Linked DNA regions of Homo sapiens. The protein of the gene in region 4 interacts with the protein of the main gene of each other region in a pairwise test. Each region holds a gene or a part of one and is shown on either strand. Other genes may lie near its edges.

Region 1 (3,500 bases), on a different chromosome or scaffold from region 4:
ATGTCTTTTAATGAGATATTTAATTCACTTACATTCAAGGTTATTATTAATAGGTGAGGACTTATCTTGTCATTTTATTGTTTTCTGGCTGTTTTCTATATCCTTTGTTCCTTACTTCCTCTTACTGTTTATTTTTGTGGTTGGGTAGTGTTCTGAAGTGATAAGGCTTGATTTCTTTCTCTTTTTCCTTTGTATATTGGCTCTACCAGTGAGTTTTATAGTGTCACATGTTTTTATAATGGCTGTTATGATCTTTTCACTTCCAGATGTAATACTCCCTTGAGCACTTCTTGTAAGACTGGTCTAGTGGTGATGGATTACCTTCGTTTTTGCTTGTCTGTGAAAGATTTTATTTCTCTTTCATTTCTGGAGGATATCTTTGCTGCATGTAATATTCTTGGTTGGCAGATTTTTTTTTTCTTTTAGTACTTTGAACATAAAATCCTATTCTCTCTTGGTTGGTAAGATTTCTGCTGAGAAATCTGCTATTAGTCTAATGGGAACTCCCTCATAGGTGATTTGATGCTTTTCTCTTGCTGGTTTCTTTTTGTCATTGTTGTTTGTTTGTTTTTGAGATGGAGTCTTGCTCTGTTGCCCAGGCTGGAGTGCAGTAGCGTGGTCTCAGCTCACTGCAACCTCCGCCTCCCAGGTTCAAGTGATTCTCCTGCCTCTGCCTCCTGAGTAGCTGGGATTACAGGCACCTGCCACCATGCCCAGCTAATTTTTTTGTATTTTTAGTAGAGACAGAGTTTCACCATGTTGGCCAGGCTGGTCTTGAACTCCTGACATCGTGATCTGCCAGCCTCGGCCTCCCAAAGTACTGGGATAACAGGCATGAGCCACCACATCCAGTCCTTCTCTTGCTGTTTTTAGAATTCTTTGTCTTTGACTTTTGATAATTTGACTCTAATGTGCCTAAGAGGGGTCCTGTTTGAATGGAATCTATTTGGGATTCTTTTAGCTTCCTGGATCTGGAAGCTCCCAAGACTTGGGAAGTTTTCAGCTACTATTTCATTCAATGTTTTCTGTACATTTGCCCTTCTTTTCTCTTTCTGGAACACCTACAGTGTGAATATTTGTTCACTTAATAGTGTCCCATGAATTCTGTAGGCTTTCTTCATTCCATTTTACTTTTTCTTCCCCCCATCTTTCTGTGTTATTTCACAAGATCTGTCTTCAAGTTCAAAAATTCAGCCACGCATGGTGGCTCACACCTGTAATCCTGGCACTTTGGGAGGCCAAGGCGGGCAGATCACTTGAGATTAGGAGTTCGATACCAACCTGGCTAACATGGTGAAACCCCATCTCTACCAAAAAATACAAAAATTAGCTGGATGTGATGGCATGCCCCTGTAGTCCCAGCTACTCAGGAGGACTGAGGAGGGAGAATCACTTGAGCCCAGGAGGTGGAGGTTGCAGTGAGCTGAGATAATGCCACTGCACTCCAGCCTGGGTGACAGAGTAAGAACCTGTCTCCAAAAAAATAAATAAATAAAATTCTGCTTGGTCTAGTCTTTTGGTAAAGCTCTAGCTTGTACTTATTTACTTATTCATTGAATTCTTCCACTCCAGGATACCTGTTTTGTTCTTTTTTATGGTATTTATCTTCTTGTTGAATTTCTTGTTCAAGTCATGAATTGTTTTCCTGATTTCATCAAATTGTCTAGCTCTATTATCTTGTATCTCACTGTAAGATTACTATTTTGAATTCTTTTTCTGTCATTTTGTATATTTCTCTATCATTGGGGTCTATTACACAGGAATTATTGTATTCCTTTGGAGGTGTCATGTTTCCTTGCTTTTTCATGTTCGATGTATCCCTATGTTGATGTCTATGCATCTGGTGGAATAATTGCCTCTTCCAATTTTATGTGGTAGGTTTTGCAGGGAAAGAAATATTTGTATGAATGGATCTTGGGGTGTTGGTTCAGTGGGATGCATTGGCTTTGGTTCCAGGTGGGCATAGTAGTGTAGTTTTTGTGTAGTTTCTTTAACTGTAATCCATGCCAGTGACATTTGTGAGTGTCTCAGTGGCCTCAGCTGAGAGGCTTTGTGGTGGTGGTGGCATGACTTTGCCAGGGATGTGTTCACCGGGCTATTTGTCAGGTCAGCGATGCATGCGTTCACATGGTGGGTTGTCCAACTTGGGGTCTCACTTGCTGGGGTTGGGGTTGGTGCCCTTACTCTGGCTGAGGGCACAGTTGCTTGGTTGCTTGGCCAGTCTGGGAGTATGCCTGCCAGAGGTGGCCTGTTGGGCTGTTTCTCAGGTTTGGGACATGGGCACACTGCTGCTCAGCTCTCCTGTGGGGAATGCCTGCTGGGGACAGCCTACAGGGCTATTTCTCAGGCATGAGAGGTGGGCATAAGTCTGCTTGATGGCCCCGGGGGCATGTCTGCCAGGAGTGGCCTGAGGAGTTGCTTCTCAGACCCGGGATATGAACACAAGGCTGCTCGGCTGGCCTAGGGGAGTTGCCGCTAGGGGTGACCCATGGGCTGTTTTTCAGGCCTGAGATATGGACACATGGCTACTTGGCTGGCCTGGGGGTATGTCTGCCAGGGGCAGCCTGCAGGGTTGTTTCTCAGGCCCTGATTGAGGTGTGGGGCCTTTGGGCAGGCCGGGGGCATGTCTGTAGGGGGCTGCACTGCCCGACTGTTTCATAGATCCGGGATGCAGGAGCGTAGTCACTCTGCTAGCCTGTCAGTTGCTCAGGGCCTTCTGCTTGCAGGAGGGTATGCAGCAGTTTGGTTGGCTCAAGAGTGGGTTTGCCCTGGGTGGGACTGTTTCTGTGGCTGAAAGTGCAGAGGGTGGTTTCCCTTCATTGCAGGACCAGAGTCACAGCCATTCCCGAGCCCTGGGTTGTGGAGTTCAGCCACCTGTGTAGCTTTGGTGGCATGAAAATGGAGTCCCAGTGCTGGAAAGGTGCAGTGGCTACTGGCCCCAAGAGGAAGGCACACTCCAGAGGGAGCTGTGGTCTAAAGATGGCGCCATGCTGTAGTAACTTGGCTCATGGAGTGGGTGGGGAGTGGGGAATGCTCCTAATCTGGGGCAGTGCAACTGTACGAATTCCCAGCAGCTCTCCAAACTGGGCTCAGAACTTGCAAGGACTGGGGGATCCTCCTGTAATAAGGACTGTAGGTGTTTGCAGTGGCAGTGGGGGCAGGTGGGAATCTCCCGCTTACCTTTTCCTCACAGGGAGAAGGCCTTCATATGTCCAGGCCTCCTCAGTCCTGGTGGAAGAGATGGGGCCACAGAGGCTGGGGGCCTTCATGCTGCCCTCCTAGACTTTCAGTCACCACAGGGGCCTCTCCACTTCCCCACTGCAGTTCAGCACTTTCCCACACTGAAGTCAAATCTTAGCTGTTTATTCATTGCCTTAGTCCTTTCCTAAGAAAGGTGGGTGGGGGGGGGGGGGAGCGGGTGAGCACCAGCTGACTCTAATCAGTCATCTTGCTGATGTCCCACCCATCATTTATTCTATGATTTTTCATGAATCTGTTGA
Region 2 (3,500 bases), on a different chromosome or scaffold from region 4:
GCAATTAAAATCCATCTTACCTGGTTCCAAGCCCAGCACTCTAGCAGCTGCTAGTTTCTTTGCCAACTTGGGACAATTCACATTCAGAAGCAAAGCCCAGAAATCAAAGGACCAGACCGTTGCCTCTGAGAACACACTGCTCAAAAGGCTGGATTGTTAAGCTACTGATATCTCCTGCTGATCCAACTTGTGAACAGTCAGCGGGGCTTGAAACCACCAAGAGAGATTTACTCTGGTTGGCTGACGTCCAATAATGGAGCAGACAATGGTTGAAAGCACACGTGCAGATGACCATTGAGACATGGGGATGTTTGGGAGGAGGAAGCCCATTGCCAAGATCAAGGTCTCAATCCACAACAGACTGCCACAGCTTAAATACAAGAGAGTCTGGCAAATCTCTGGATGTGGGGAAACTATGCAGTCTTTCCTCTCTCTTCAAGGACAAACGAAAGGATTCCCTGTGGCAATAAGTTACCTCAAGGACAACTACTGACTGACAAATATTTACTTTTAGTTGTGTTGCATTCTTCTCACTTTCTATAGAAAAAAAATTTCCTGGGTTTAATAGCAATTTAAGTAGACAACTGGTTAAGCAGACATACTAATGTAAAGAACAAAAGAACATATAAACTACATGTATACATAAAACACAATATTTAAGAATCAATAGTTTCAATGGGTACATGCTCCTCAAATCCCCAGACACATTATCATTAGCTTGCTTTTATTAATACAGCTACATATCAAAGGCATCAACAGACATAATCAATTTCATTTTCCTTCTACCCCTTAACCTACACAAAAGCAGTCATCTTTACATATAACAAAACCAACCAATAGGCCGGGCGCGGTGGCTCATGCCTGTAATCCTAGTACTTTGGGAGGCTGAGTCAGGTGGATTGCCTGAGCTCAAGAGTTCGAGACCAGCCTGAGAAACAAGGTGAAACCCCGTCTCTACTAAAATACAAAAAAAAAATTAGCTGGGCGTGGTGGCGTGCACCTGTAGTCCCAGCTACTCAGGAGGCTGAGGCAGGAGAACTGCTTGAACTCGGGAGGCGGAGGTTGCCGTGAGCCGAGATGGTGCCACTGCACTCCAGCCTGGGTGACAGAGTGAGACTCCGTCTCACAAAAAAAAAAAAAAAAAAGAAACCAATCAATAATTTTCGAAGAAAAAAATGAGAGATCTTTCTGAAAGTGTCTTTGCTGAGATGGACAAAGGTCTGTTTTTTCTAAGAGAACTAACTGAGCTTGGTTCTTTATTTTTTTAGAGAAAGGGTCTTGCTCTGTCACCCAGGCTAGAATGCAATGGCATGATCGAAGCTCACTGTAGCCTTGAACTCCTGGGCTCAAGGATCCTCCAGCCTCAGCCTCCTCAGTAGCTAGGACTAAAGGTGTGAGCCACCACGCCTGGCTGAGCTTGGTTCTCTTGAAGCAGTCACACTGTGAAGATTTTGAAACCCTTTACATATGCAATTATTAAACACAATCAACACAGGACAAGCTCTGGCTTACCCTCCTTGTCACTAAGCCACAAGACCCCATGGCTGGCAAAGGAACTAAGGGGGTGTCTTGTTTCCCACTGGCCCGTCCTAAGTCTGGGGTCCTTGGGGTACCTGCTGCTGTGCCTGCTGCTCCTCAATGAAATGAGAATTGGCTCTCTGGAGCTCTCGGTCCAGACGCCCATATTTATCTGTTGTTCCAGTGCTCCAGTTCTGGCTGCCACTGTCTCCCAGCAGTGCCTGTGTGAGAAGAACAACCAGAGGAGTCAGGAGAAACAAACAATTACTATCTCTGAACAAGTGATGCATCAAGAGTGATATAAAGAGTTTTCACATTTCTTGTCTATTTTCCCCTGGGCAAGGCTTTTATGTAGTGGTGTAGGTTGGTGCCTGGGTGGTACTATTTAAGGAATTCCAGGAAGGGCCCTCTATGTCTTTAAGCTCTCCCAATAGGCCTCACAATGGGCTTTGTCCCCTTAAAGTGCAAATAAACGTCTGCTAAATCAACAAACACCCATCTATATACTGTGTTATAATTGAAAAGCATTCAATCTCTTGTAAAAGAGCTCTTCCTGGTACCTGTGGAACTTCAGCAACCCATAGGTTCCAGTCAACCTGATTCCGAAGATCTAGAGTACTTTTTTAAAAAAAGTGTGACCCAGGGGAAGTTGTGGGTTTTTTTGGTGGGGGGAAAGGGAGAGTTCCCTGGAATGACAAGAAGGTAAGCCATAGCCCTTCACACACAAAGGCACAAGAACCATCAATGTCTGTTAAGTTTAACCCATGAATAGAATCCAGGGTCCTTCAGGCTTTCCAGATGACAACTGGGGGTTACTTTACAGGCAGGTATGACCACAAGGAATGCCTGACCCTGGCAACCGAGGCAAGGGCTGCCCTAAAGTCAGAGTTCTCCACCAGGGCTCCCAGACACAAGGGTCGGGTTTCCCAAGTATGAATTCAAGGAAGTTTGCAGCCATAAATGGGTATGTCTTCCTCACATGAAGAAGACAGGCAGGAATGTGAGAGTTCCATCTCAGCAGTTGGTTCTGACCAGATCCCCACAAGCCTTCCTGACTGGTCAAAGTAACTGCTCACACCAGCCCCGCAGGCAAGAGCCAGAAGACGCTAGCAACTAAGACTCTTTTTCCTTGTAGAGTTGCCAAATTTTCCTATCGGGTAATTTAAAAAAAATCTCAGGCACTATTAAAAGCCTGCCTGGTTACTTGGTTCTGTCTGAAAACCCTTCCAACAGCCCCATGACCTTCCTCCATACTGACACTGACCTCTTCTCAGACTGCGAGGGGTGAACTCCATCAAATGGCCAGACTTCAGGGGCTAGGATCAGGGAAGCTCAGTTATTAGAAGCTTTTCTTACAAGAGCTTCCAGGGGCCCAGAGCTTCAGTCCAGCTGGATGGTGACTGTCTCTGGTGTAAAGCAGATCCAAGGCTTTTTGTGGGTGGCTCTGCCCTGACCTGGTCTTAGGGCTATCAAGACTGAAAAGATCCTGCTCATTATGATCCACACTCTAAGGACCTCTATGGAAGACATGAGGAAATAGTGACAATTTTTTTAGGGTCAGAAAAATGCTATAATGCATCACTGGCCTAAGGACAGAGAACTGGGACACCACCAGGGCCTTGTGTGCTCCTGAGGTCACAGGGCTATTTTTCCTACGTTTTCCATGGTGTACACTTAGGTAGAGCTAAGTATAGGGCAAATCATCCACGTTTTATTGTGAAATAGCTTAAAGTTCATCAGTCTGATCCCAAATGTTTGTGATAATAGGATAGAGATTGAGAGAGGGCCCAAGGACTGGAAGATGCACCTGTGTGTGGGTGCCAGAGCAGGGGTGCTGGTGAGGCAAGGAGCAGCACAGAGCCTGGCACCTGGCACAACGTGGCAAGGCCCATGCCTGCTGGAGTGCTTAGAGAGCCCTGATCCTGCTATTCCTTGAAAATTTGCAACTTGACATTTCACTCATAGCCTAAAACAAAATTCCA
Region 3 (2,988 bases), on a different chromosome or scaffold from region 4:
GTCACTGCCATGTAACCCACTGTCCAGTGCACAGAAAGTGCTTGGTGTTTGCCACAGTGCTCTGGGGTGGGTATGTGGGTTGGGGGCTGGGAGTGTACTGGTGGGGTGAGTGCATGGGATAGGGACTGGGTAGCTGGGGTCAGTATTCTGATTCTTCGTCTTTCTTGGTAGGGCCTCTATTAGTCCTTGAGTCCTGACATCTTGAGGCATGAAGGTTTGTTAATTATTCAGGATGGAACCATTGCTTGGTTTGTATAGCACTTCTGTCTTTACCTCTATAAACTAAAACTACCTTTGCATCTTAGTTTTTATCATCACAACCTCATTGCAAAAAGGAGGCAAAGAGAATAGGAAAAATTAAAAAAGAAGGGCTTAAGGAAGTTAAATAATTGTCCAAGATCATGTAATCAGTGTCCAAGCCACCAGAACAAGGCAGGTTTTCTTATTTCCCCAAGTGACATCTAACCCCACTGCACTGCTGTGCCCTCAGGGCTCCTCTGCCTTGCATTTGGGTTCAGCAGGAAACAGTCATCTCCTAGAAAGTATCCATGAAGAGGCCTATTCTTAATTTGGCTTTGTCCAGTTACTGTGCCCAAGTAGGAATACATTTGAAGGTGCCTGTATCATACTAGAAGTAATGGAATGAATTCCTTTCCTTTTGGGATTCTCTTTGTGATCTCATATTTTTTTCCCCTTCCAGGTGGTGTTCCGTCTTTGATTGCTGGTCTTTTTGTTGGATGTTTGGCCGGCTATGGAGCTTACCGTGTCTCCAATGACAAACGAGATGTAAAAGTGTCACTGTGTAAGTAAGGCATTTTTCCTGGTTACAGAGACTCAAACATTGGAGGTGATCTTTTTGATACCCTATGCTAGATATACTAGAACATATTTAGTCAAATGGCAAATGGCCATATGCATGTGTTGAGGCTGAATACAACACTTATTCCTTTCTAGAAAGACCTGATAAAAAATGATGGTACTGCTACCAGGCCTTCCAACTCAGAAGAATATTTCTATAAAAACTCGTTACTAGAAAAATTGAATTAGGAAAAGCAAGGAATTATTTTCAGATTTTCTGCTAACTCTCCTAAATGCATATTTAGCATAGTTTTTACATTGCTGTGGAAATAACTAAAAAAGAGACAGCCTTGCATTATTTCATTTAATTCACAAACATCTTTTAGATTCTGCACTGCCTTAAGACTTAACCTAAAAAAGCAAGGCTGACGCTTTTTTAGCTACTTCCCTTGTTAAGTTTAATGGGAGAATATCCACAGAAAAAATGGAAACCTGTGTGTTTAAAGTCACCAGGACACTTGACTTTCATCTCACTTGAAAGAGATACACAGTGAAGATTTAGAAAACCATACCAAGGACATTTTCTCTAGTTGATTTATTATTCAAAGTGCCTTGGTCGTGTATGGAAAAAAATATAAATGAAGACAAAATTGTTCTATATTTGAAGGAGAGTGAGAGATTTGGGGTTTTTTTTTTTTTTTAGTTATTTTTATAAGGGGCTAGGGATATTTTTAGTAATGAGGTTGTGTTAGATGTATCAGCCAGATGTAGTGATATTAGGATTTTTATTGATATGCATTTAAATAGTTCACAAGTATTTATTGTCAGTCATTTTATTTTTTATATCAATAAACAGTTTTTCTTTGAAAGCTGTTTTTAAATTGTGGCATTGATGTCCTAATCTCTTACATAAAACTACCTCTCCCTTCATAGATACAGCTCCAAAAAGGCTGACATGATGCTTCTGAATAAAATACTATTGCTTAGACTATTATTTAGTCTCCAGGCATCAAATTCTCCAAAATGGGATGCTACAAAACAAAACCAATCAGCCTTCTTTTTAGTATTTTTTTTTTATTAATCAGATCTTACTTGTAAAAGATACATTAACTATTTTCTTTATATTCAGTTAACTGAACATTAATGAGTGTCTCCTGTGGGTCCAAGTGTGCTACTTAGTGTTTCTGAGGGAAGTTGAATAAAGCTCAGTGCTAGCCTTCAAGGCGTGTTCTTTGAATAGAAATTTAGGTTAGAAAAAGACTTTCTTAGCTAGGCATGGTGGCTCATGCCTGTAATCTCAGCACTTTTGGAGGCTGAGGCCGGTGGATCACTTGAGGCCAGGAGTTCAAGACCAGCCTGGCCAACATAGCAAGACCCTGTCTCTACTAAAAGTACAAAAATTAGCTGGATGTGGTTGTACATGGCTGTAATCTCAGCTACTCGGGAGGCTGAGGCAGGAGAATTGCTTGAACCCGGGAGGTGGAGGTTGCAGTGAGCTGAGATCACGCCACTGTACTCCAGCCTGGGTGACAGAGCAAGACTCTGTCTCAACAACAACAACAACAACAACAACAAAAAAAAAAAAAAGAAAAAGAAAAGGTCTTTCTCTTTTGAAGATATTTCAGGAATGGATTTTAACATGTTTGTTTACCCAGAAACCTTTTCGGCGAGGTAGATGATGATGAAGTGTTTCTTTGTTTGTTCTTTTGTTGTTTTTTTGAGACAGAGTTCGCTCTTGTTGCTCAGTCTGGAGTGCAGTGGCGTGATCTCAGTTCACCACAACCTCTGCCTCCCCGGTTCAAGCAATTCTCCTGCCTCAGCCTCCCGAGTAGCTGGGATTACAGGCATGTGCCACCATGCCCTGCTAATTTTTTTTGTATTTTTAGTAGAGACGAGGTTTCTCCATGTTGGTCAGACTGGCCTCAAACTCCCAACATCAGGTGATCCACCCATCTCTGCCTCCCAAAGTGCTGGGATTATAGGCGTAAGCCACTGGCCCGGCCATGAAGTGTTTTAATAGAGCACTTTATCTTTTCAAGACAATGGCAACTCAGTACCTATCCATAATAGTTGTAATGTTAGAAAGCTTTAAATGGTACCCGCTGTTTTCCCACAAGCATTGATAACATGTTTGAAACTCTGGTTCATGAATTAGTTTGGTTTTCAGTTACAGCTTTCTTCCTGGCTACC
Region 4 (3,901 bases):
TCTTCAAGTTTTCCATCTTCACTGTATGTTGCTGAAAGTGAGGATGAGGATACAGAGTTGATATTTTTAGAAACAGTAATTTTACTTTTAAGGAAATTGGCTAGCTCTTTGAGCTAGAGAGCTGTAGGAAGCTCAACATTTCTTTGTAGAGAACGTTGCTTTTTTTGGATTGTACAGGTATAAAAACATTGCTTTTGTTGAATTGTATAGGTGTAAAAAGGGAATAACTGTATGCAGGTTTGAAAAGGAAATGTGCTTTAGGCATGAGTCATAAGATGCCATTGTACTTGTAGGCATTTTATTTTCCTTTAGAAATGGACATCAGCTCTTCTCTTCTGACTGGTAACACATAGCCCCAAAGCATGAGATTATTTTTCATTGGGTTTTTATTGTTGTTTAGTTTTGGTTTGTTACGCCAGCCCAGTCTGTCTGCGGAACACTGACTCTGCTCTCTAATGAGAACAAAGTTAGAAATCTGCCGATAACCTAAAATAATTTAGAAATGAATTAAAAATGTGAAATCGGGTTAAAGTGATGATGATAAAATAGCATGCAAGAAACAAGCTCCTTCCATCAGACTTGGCTACTGTTTTCTTCTGGTACGATTTGGTTTGGAAGAGCCTCTTGTTTCCTTCTCTTTGGGGTATGTCTTCGTTTCTTAATATGTTTGTAACATTATTGAGATATAATTCACATACCTTACAATTCACTTATTTTAAGGGTACAATTTAGTGGTTTTTAGTGTATTCACAAAGTTGTGTAACCGTGACCACAGTCAATTTTAGAACATTTCGTTACCCCAAAAAGAAACCCTGTACCCTTGAGCAGTCACCTCTCATTTTCTCCCAGTGCCCACCCCATCCCCGAGCCCCTGGCAACCACTAATCTATTTCTCTCTCTGTAGATTTGCTTATTCTGGTCATTTCATATAAATGGAATTCTACAATATTCGGTCTTTTGGGACTGGCTTCCCAAATATGATTTTCTATATGGAGTGAGAAAATTCTTCTCATCTTGAGAACTCTTATTGCTGTGAAAGGGAGTGGTTGGTAAAATCAATAGATTTCAGGCAAGAGGGCCAGATACCTAACAGGTTTTTCTCCGTGAATCTTATGCTGAGTAGTTTTTCCTCATAACCAAGCATTTATGATATATTACTACTTATAATACTGTGGCTAGTCTCTAGAATGGATGTTGAAATCTTTGCCTCCTCAGTCGGGAAGAGTCCTGCTAAAAATCAGGCTAAAAATCAGGCCAAAAATCAGGCCAAATGACTTGGCAAATAATTGACAAAGTGGTTTTCACGTGTGTCTATCTTTGCTAGCAGCTTGTATACCTCAGGCCAGGTGAGCTCCCCAAATTTCTTTTTTCATTTACTCCAGTGAGTTTCTGCTGTCTTTTTCAAGTATGTACCATAGGACTTAAAGGTGATTTGGATGCGTTGTAACACTGCTAAATATGCTAAGTACAGAATTTTATCTACAGTACTGTGAGACAGTCAATTATTGCCTAGGGTAGTTCAAAAATATGATGTGAGCTAGTTAAGCCTTTGCTTGACTGATTTCAGTGATATTCAGAAGTGTGTACCAATCAAGGCTCTTTAAAATACGGAACGACTCACTTAATAACCAGGGAACCAGCCAAATACTGTGCAGCCGCAGAATATGCATATCAATGAGTTGGAGGTGATTATTCTCTGTAACTCCCTAATGATTGTTTTCTAAGCATTGTGGCTTCTCAGTGGCTTGACAGCATCTTCCTGGTTGTATGTGGCCTGTTTACATGATGTATTGAATAATGTTGTTTGTTGTGAGCATCAATGCCTGTAACACCAAACTAAACACGTGTTTTTGGGATATGTTTCCAATCTTTAAATGACCTTGCCCTGTCCAATAAATAAATGATTGTCTCACCCTGTTTTTGGTAGTGTTTTTTGGGCTTTTTTTTTTTGGACTTTTAATCTCATTTCTTCTGCTTTTCTGTCCCCAGAAAAATGTAAGAGCTAATTTTATGACTGTATTTTTCTACTGTGATGCTGTTTTACTGAATTCAATGGATAATTTAATTGTACATGTAAAATCTTACTGCAGTTTTATGTTTTTAATAGTCAAAATAGAATGTATAATCTTGATGATGTTTATAAATCATCAAATGCCCTTTGGGGTGTAAAAATGGGTTCTTGAGCAGCAGTGTCTAATGATTCCATCACAAATTTGTTATAAAGCCAAACTCCCATTGAAAGTGTCACTTTATACTTAATAGGAAATCGTTATGATTAAAGCATCAAGGAAGCAAATATAAAGTTTAATGAAAATCCAAGGGGAAGTTCTAAATTGCAAAACTTGGCACTTATCTACAGTATTTTGAAAAATAACACCACCGGTATTCAAACCTACCTAGGAATATCTCAAAATAACCTGTTAATTAAGTGTTCTTAGAAAGGGGAGTGGGGGCAAGAAAGATGATGTATGCACATGGCGAAAAGATCAGATGGTACAGAAAGGTATAAAAACTTGGTCCCTTCCCTCCTACCCTAATACTCCTCTCCAAAAGTAACCAGTTTCAAGTGTCTTGTACTCACAGGAAAACAATTTTTTATTTTTTATCAGCAAATTTGTACTTTAAAAATTTCACATTAATAGAATCAGACTATATATACTCTTCTGTACCTTGCTTTTTTTGCTACCTGTGTTTTATGAGATCTTTCTGTATCAGTATATATAAAAATACCTCATTATTTTTAGCGGCTGTGTGGTATTCTAATGTTTGAATGTGTTACAAATGTTCAAACACTGATAGGCTCTTTAGGTTGTTTCCAATATTAAATCACATTGTGGTGAATATACTTGTACATATAATGAGTTTTTATTCTACAGTGTACCTAGCAATACAATTGCTGGATCAGAGGGTATTTTTTATTTTCAGTTCAGTAGTTACTGCCAAATTGTCCTCTAGAAATCTTTGCCCAGTATGCTTCCACATATAATGTATGAGAATGATTATTTACCAAACCCATGCCAATACTGGGTACTAAACTTTTGAAGTCTGATCATGTGAAAGTGAATAAATGGTATCTTGCGTTTTAATGAAGTTCTAATGCATTTTAATGAAGGTCTGGTACATTTTAATGAAGGAGATGGAACACATTTTCATGTTTATTGATTACTGATATTTCCTGTGAAATGTGTAGTCATGTTCTGTTTTCTATTAGGTGGTATGTGTTTTATTGATTTGTATGAGCTTTTTGTAAGCTAAGAAAATTGGTCCATTGTCATGTTTAATAATATTTTCCTAAGTTTTATTTATGTAGTTAAACTTAGTCTTTACAGCTTCTGAGATTTTGCCTTGCTTAGAAAGGCCACCTTTGCATTTAAGAATAAATTTAATGTATTTTTCCAGTATTTTAAAGGTTTTTTTTTCAACTTTTAAATCTTTGATTCATTTGGAATTTGTCTAGGTAGTAAGAGTGAGGAGAGGATTCAACATTTTTCTCTCCAATAGCAATCTATTCTAACCCCATTTATTAACTTTTTCAACACTGATTGGAAAAACCATCATCCTCATTCATACATCAAATTTCCATATGTCTGGTTAGATATGCTTCTGGGTTCTGTAGTCTGTTGCAAAAAATACGAGTCTTTTAATTATTTTAAATTGTTATATATTTTTGTCTTGGGTATTGCTAGTCCATACCTCATTTTTAGGAATTTTTTCTAGTTACTGCATGTTTATTTTTTTCAGATAAGCTTTCATATCATTTTGTCCAAATCTAAAATTATATTTTCCCTGAAATTTAATTTTGAAAAATTTCAAATCTACAGAAAATGTGAAAGAAAATAGGATGGACACCAGTATACTTTTCATTTAGGTTCACCATTTTTAACATTTTACCACTGTTGCT

The links. The genes of interacting proteins can lie anywhere in the genome.
Region 1: the proteins of MMGT1 (region 4) and STX8 interact in binary tests that used the Homo sapiens proteins (3 or more experiments, as listed by UniProt).
Region 2: the proteins of MMGT1 (region 4) and STX6 interact in binary tests that used the Homo sapiens proteins (3 or more experiments, as listed by UniProt).
Region 3: the proteins of MMGT1 (region 4) and TMEM14A interact in binary tests that used the Homo sapiens proteins (3 or more experiments, as listed by UniProt).

Annotation. Positions count from the first base shown.
Region 1 is NC_000017.11:9,506,321-9,509,820, reverse strand, and holds part of STX8 (syntaxin-8), read left to right. Parts: intron 1-3,500. UniProt on the Homo sapiens protein: Vesicle trafficking protein that functions in the early secretory pathway, possibly by mediating retrograde transport from cis-Golgi membranes to the ER.
Region 2 is NC_000001.11:180,988,371-180,991,870, forward strand, and holds part of STX6 (syntaxin-6), read right to left. Parts: intron 1,740-3,500; coding exon 1,614-1,739; intron 1-1,613. UniProt on the Homo sapiens protein: SNARE promoting movement of transport vesicles to target membranes. Targets endosomes to the trans-Golgi network, and may therefore function in retrograde trafficking.
Region 3 is NC_000006.12:52,681,113-52,684,100, forward strand, and holds part of TMEM14A (transmembrane protein 14A), read left to right. Parts: intron 1-700; coding exon 701-802; intron 803-2,965; coding exon 2,966-2,988. UniProt on the Homo sapiens protein: Inhibits apoptosis via negative regulation of the mitochondrial outer membrane permeabilization involved in apoptotic signaling pathway.
Region 4 is NC_000023.11:135,960,088-135,963,988, reverse strand, and holds the end of MMGT1 (ER membrane protein complex subunit 5), read left to right. Parts: 3' UTR 1-3,401; downstream 3,402-3,901. UniProt on the Homo sapiens protein: Part of the endoplasmic reticulum membrane protein complex (EMC) that enables the energy-independent insertion into endoplasmic reticulum membranes of newly synthesized membrane proteins.